Linked DNA regions of Homo sapiens: region 2 is linked to region 1. The links come from fine-mapping of genetic effects on gene expression. A gene starts in region 1. The other region holds a variant in brackets. All regions are shown on one strand. Distances are between the middles of the regions. Region 1 holds the start of INO80E (INO80 complex subunit E). Region 2 has its middle 5.9 kb from the start of DOC2A.

Region 1 (2,833 bases):
GGGTCCAAAGTAGTCTGGGCTGGAGGCTTCAGAGCCGGACTCTGGAATATGGAGAGGAGAGAGGGTTGAGACAGGCTCCTCCTGTCCCTTCTCCCTTCACTTCGGATAGGTTGCCTCGAGCCCTGCCCTGACAGTTGGAGGGGCAGCAGGAAACAGCTATCTGTACTTGCTGTTCCCGGTTCCTGACTCACTAGCCTTGCTCCCTCATCTAACGCCTGGGGACATAAGAGATGCGCAGTGAATGCTTCTTGAGTGAACCAACGATGCAGAAGGCCCCCACAGCAGGGAGGAAGCACTAACCCGACTCTGAATTGAAGCGGAACCTTTTTCTCTCCGGGTCGCTACAAGGGGTGGGAGGCCTCTTGCCCTTCTTGGTAAGGTCCAGTTTGTCTTCCCTGGAAGCGGCTTCATCCACCTGTGTGTGCGCCAAGAGGGCAAACTATGCACCAAGGCTGCGCTCACCGCGCCCCGTCAGGCCCCTCCTCCTCAGCAGCAAGCCCCGCCTCCGCCTCCCGCGGCCCAGGCTCCGGCCCGGCACACCTGCATCTTCAGCAGCTCCTCCTCCACCAGCCGCTTCAGTGCCTGCTTCTCCTCGGGCTCCAGGTGGCTGCGGCCCGAGTGAGCTAAGTACCTCCGCCGCACGATGGAATGCGTAAGCGTGCTGCAGGGACATGGTGTCAGGACGGAGTCCCGACCCACCCGCGCCCTTTCCAACCCCATCTCCAACCCCCTGGGCACCTGAGGTCCGGGCGGCCTCGGAAGAAGCTACGGGTGAACTCCTGCATCTCCTTCTCCCGCGCCATTTTGCTCAACCCGGGATTGACGGCTCCCGCCTTTTTTTCTTCTCGGCCTCCGTCAGCGCGTTTGACAGCGGCTCGCGCACGCGCAGTGCTGCGGCAACGTGGGGCGAGGGACCGTTGGCCCTTGGCCGCGGACCGCGTGGGCCGAGAACTTTGCCAGACGAGACTTGTTTTCTCTGGGCAGTTGGAGGGTCTCGCGGCTCCTACCCTTTTTTGGAACGGATCATTTTAAAAGTTCTCGTTAGAAACCAATTCGGCGCCGGCACCCTTTGGGTGAAACCTAATCAGCCCGCGACGCTGCCTTTCTCACTGGTCACGGGCAACAGCTAGGCTGCTGTTATTTCGCAAGGCAGAAGAGAAAAGGCATCCTCGCGAGCAGATGAGGAACCTCGGGGATAAATCCTTTTGTGGCTTCAAGTGTCTAAGTACATTAGAGTCAGGAACGGCGCTTTCCAGCGTCCGCCATTTTTGTGGCGTCACCGCGTCGCTGCTACGCCATCCCCAGCGCAGTGGCTGCCGCGCTCCTGTCCCAGTGTCCCCCGGGAGGTCGGCCCGTGCGGTGACGCCCCTGAGCGCGGGGTACGCCGGGAGTTGTAGTCCTGACGGCACAGCCTTGCAGCGTCTCCGGAAGTGGAGGCGGGAGCGGCACGGCAGCCACTGCTTGGGGTAGCGGGAGGGCAGACTCTGGGCGCCACTCCCGGGCCGGTCATGAACGGGCCGGCGGACGGCGAAGTGGACTACAAAAAAAAATACCGGAATCTGAAGCGGAAGCTCAAGTTCCTCATCTACGTGAGTGCTGCCGCGGGAAGGCTGTGGGGGATGAGGCCTGGCGCGGACAAGATCTCAGTTTACCCAGGTGTAAAGTGGGTGGGGCGAGCGGCCGCTGGTTCCGGGGCCCTTCACGGAGGACCGTTGGCCCAGCGCACCCCTTGCCCGTGATACAGGAGCACGAGTGCTTCCAGGAGGAGCTGAGGAAAGCGCAAAGGAAATTACTGAAGGTGTCCCGGGACAAGAGGTGAGGCACGTTGCAGGGGCGGAGGGCGATGTGCTTCCTAGGAAATCTACATTCGGACCCCATCCCCGAGTAGGGCCACAAGTGCATGGGCTCTTTCAAGTATCCGATGGGCCAGCTGGGAGGGACAGGTACCCAGGAGGACATTGCTGCGCTGGAAAATCACTGTCCGTGTCTCCTTCCCTCCCCTCAGTTTCCTCCTAGACCGACTTCTGCAGTACGAGAACGTGGATGAAGACTCTTCGGGTGAGCAAGGTCTTCAAAAATTGGTGGAGAGCATGGTTCCTGGTACTTAGCAAGCTTCCTGGGCCCCCGCCTTTTAGGCAGTGGTGGCTGATGCAGCCCCCAGTGGTCCTTAAGCCTAGTTGCTTGCCTTCCACCTCCACCGTTCTTTCATTCAGGCACTTACTGAGCACCTATTGTGTTTCAGGCACTGTGCTTGGCACAGGGGATACAGCAGAGGCAGAGATAGGCAAAGCCCTTGGCCTCTTGTAATTTATATTCTAGTTGGGAAGAATAAGTAAATGAAGACAATAGACTAGAATTTTAGGTCATAGGAAGGACTTGAAGGTAATGAAAACAGTTATGCGGTAATGATTATAGTAGAACAGGGGTTGATGAATTGTTTCTGCAAAGGGCCAGATGGTAAGTAAGCTTTTTGCAACATACAATCTTTGAAGCACCTACTGAACTCTGCCATTGTAGTAGCAGCCGTACCCCATAGGCAAATACATGAGTATGGCTATGTTTCTATAAAACTTTATAGGCACTGAAATTTGAATTTCATATTTTTCCATATGAAAAATTTTTCTTTAGTTTTTTTTTTTTCCAACCGTTTAAAAGCTTAAAAGCCATTCTTGGCCAGGTGCAGTGGCCCACGCCTGTAATCCCAACACTTTGGGAGGCCGAGGTGGGCGGATCACAAGGTCGGGAGTTCAAGACCAGCCTGACCAACATGGTGAAACCTCGTCTCTACTAAAGATACAAAAATTAGTCGGGTGTGGTGGCGTGCACCTGTAAT
Region 2 (2,906 bases), 21 kb after region 1:
ATTTTTTTGTATTTTTGTAGAGATGGGTTTTCACCATGTTGGCCAGGCTGATCTTGAACTCCTGACCTCAGGTGATCCGCCTGCCTCGGCCTCCCAAAGTGCTGAGATTACAGGCATGAGCCACTGTGCCTGGCCAAATTTTGGTCTTGTCTTTTTCTTTCTTTTCTTCTTTCCTTCCTTCCTTCCTTCCTTTCTTCCTTCCTTCTTTCCTTCCTTTTTCTTTTTTTTTTTTTTTTTGAGACAGGGTCTCACTGTGTTGCCTAGGCTGGAGTGCAGTGGCAAGATCATAGCTCACGACATCCTCGAACTCTTGGGCTCAGGCGATCCTCCCACTTTAGCCTCCCATGTAGCTGGGACTATAGGTATGCACCACCATGCCTGGCTAATCTGTTTTTGTTTGTTTGTTTGTTTTGTAGAGATGGGTCTTACTATGGTGCCCAGGCTGGTTTCAAACTCCTGGCCTCAAGCCATCCTCCTACCTTGGCCTCCCAAAGTGCTGGGATTACAGGTGTGAGCCAAAGACCATGCCCAGCACAATAATATATATATATATATATATATATATATATATATATTTTTTTTTTTTTTTTTTTTTTTAGACAGAGTCTCGCTCTGTTGCCCAGGCTGGAATGCAGTGGCACGATCTTGGCTCACTGCAACCTCCACCTCCCAGGTTCAAGCCTCAGCCTCCCAAGTAGCTGGGATTACAGGTGCACACCACCATGCCTGGCTAATTGTTGTATTTTTAGTGGAGATAGGGTTTCACCATGTTGGCCAGGCTGGTCTCGAACTCCTGACCTCAAGTGATCTGCCTGCCTTGGCCTCCCAAAGTGCTGGGATTACAGGCATGAGCCACTGCACCCGGCCAATATTTCTAAAGTAAAGGCAACCGTTAGGTTTCCTTCGTGGCTCTCCAGAATAAGAAAGGAAGCAGGACGAAGGGAGACACAGTGCAGTGTGAAAGCCGGTGAGTTTAGCAAGAGGGTGTCCATGACCTGGGCGCAGGGGGCCTGCAGTGAGGGGAGGGGGACACTCTGGTCAAGGAACCTGTCGAGTCCTCTCTCCTGTGCTCTCTTCCCACGGTGCTTGCTCAACCCCAGCCCTGCCTGCCTCCAGAAGAACTTGTTGAAGACAGGTAAGGATGAGGCTGGAGTTCAAGCCAATTTCAGAGGAAAATGATGGACAGTGCTGAGCCCTGCTTTGTCCAGAGACGGGAGGCTTTTGCACCAGTCACCCAGTCATTCAGTAAATATTGACTGAATATCGACTATAGATTGTGGGGATACAACCAGGCCCAAGGTCAATGAGCTGTGACTTCACAGCCTCATAGGGAAGACAGACAAATACACAGACAATCCCCATCCAGGGAAACTGACGTGGGGACAGGGGATGGTCAGAAGCCATGGGAACTCAGGGTCC[T/C]ATGAGGTAGGAGGGAACAAAGATTAACACCTCACTTCCCAGAAAAGGAGTTGTCTCAACTGAGACCTGAAAGATGAGGAGGAGTTACCCAGGTCAAGCTTGGGGGCAAGTGTATTCTAGGCAGAGGTGTGTGCCAAAGCTGGGAGGCAGTCCAGAGTACGGCATATTCAGAAAAGAAATCATTCTACCAGCCTGGTCAACATGACGAAACCCTGTCTAAAAAAAAAAATTAGCCAGGAGTGGTGGTGTGCACTTGTAGTCCCAGCTACTCGGGAGGCTGAGGCAGGATGATCGCTTGAGCCCAGGAGTTTGAGGCTGCAGTGAGCCAAGATCAAGCCACTGTACTCCAGCCTGAGTGACAGAGTGAGACCCTGTCTCAAAAAAAAAAAAAAAGAGAAAAAGAAAGAAAGAAATCATTCCACCAAAAAGACACCTGCACTTGTGTGTTTATTGCAGCACTGTTCACAATAGGAAAGACACAGAATCAATCTAGGTGCCCACCAACAGTGGACTGGATAAAGAAAATGTGATATGTATATGCCATGGAATACTATGCAGCCATAAAAAAGAATGAAATTATATCCCTTGCAGCAACATGGATGCAGCTGGAGGCCATTATCCTAACTGAATTAATGCGGAAACAGAAAATCAAATACCACATGTTCTCGTAAGTGGGAGCTAAACATTGGGTACCTATGGACATAAAGATGAGAATAACAGACACTGGGGACTCCAAAAAAGGGGAGGGAGGGAAAGAGTCGAAAAACTACCTATTGCCGGGTGCGGTGGCTCATGCCTGTAATCCCAGCACTTTGGGAGGCCAAGGTGGGCGGATTGCTTGAGGCCAGGAGTTTGAGACCAGCCTGGCCAACATGGCGAAACCCCATCTCTACTAAAAATACAAAAATAATTAAGTGGGCTTGGTGGCATGCGTCTGTAATCCCAGCTACTCAGGAGGCTGAGGCACAAGAATCACTTGAACCTGGGAGGTGGAGGTTGCAATGAGCTGAGATCGTGCCACTGCACTCCAGCCTGGGCAACAGAGTGGGACTCTGTCTCCGGAAAAAAAAAAAAAAAAGAAAGAAAAGAAAATTGAGGCTGGGCGCTGTAATCCCAGCACTTTGGGAGGCCAAGGCAGGAGGATCCCTTGAGCCCCGGAGTTCAAGACCAGCCTGGGCAACATAGTGAAATCCTATTTCTACCAAAAAAAAAAAAAAAAAAAAAAAAAACTTAGCTGGGCATGATGACTTGATGATGCAGTCCCAGCTACTTGGGAGGCTGAGGAGAGAGGATTGCTTGAGCCTGGGAGGTCGATGCTGCAGTGAGCTATGATTGCACCACTGCACTCCAGCCTGGGCAACAGAGTGAGATGCTGTCTCAAAAAAAAAAAAAAAGAAAGAAAGAAAATTGAACCAACAGATCTTTTTATTCTTATCTTTTACAGATGGGATTCTCTGTCACCCAGCTTGGAGTGTAGCAGCACGATC

The links. PIP is the estimated chance that this variant, and not a neighbour inherited with it, causes the effect.
Region 2: its variant is the best candidate, but not a certain one, in a credible set for the expression of INO80E in whole blood (TOPMed, PIP 0.76).

The regions. Positions count from the first base shown.
Region 1 is chr16:29,994,803-29,997,635 of GRCh38, forward strand. INO80E (INO80 complex subunit E) reads left to right here and starts at 1,439. Exons shown (of 7, transcript NM_173618.3): 1 at 1,439-1,589; 2 at 1,745-1,815; 3 at 2,006-2,058. The coding sequence starts at 1,509. It overlaps HIRIP3 (HIRA interacting protein 3), which reads right to left and starts at 815. Exons shown (of 7, transcript NM_003609.5): 1 at 739-815; 2 at 541-661; 3 at 301-415; 4 at 1-41. The coding sequence starts at 803. RefSeq lists enhancers at 1,163-1,332, 1,393-1,522.
Region 2 is chr16:30,015,482-30,018,387 of GRCh38, forward strand. It overlaps a transcript of DOC2A not described here. Among named protein-coding and RNA genes, the nearest start is that of DOC2A, 5.9 kb to the left of the region's middle. The variant T/C (reference allele first, on the strand shown) is at 1,420.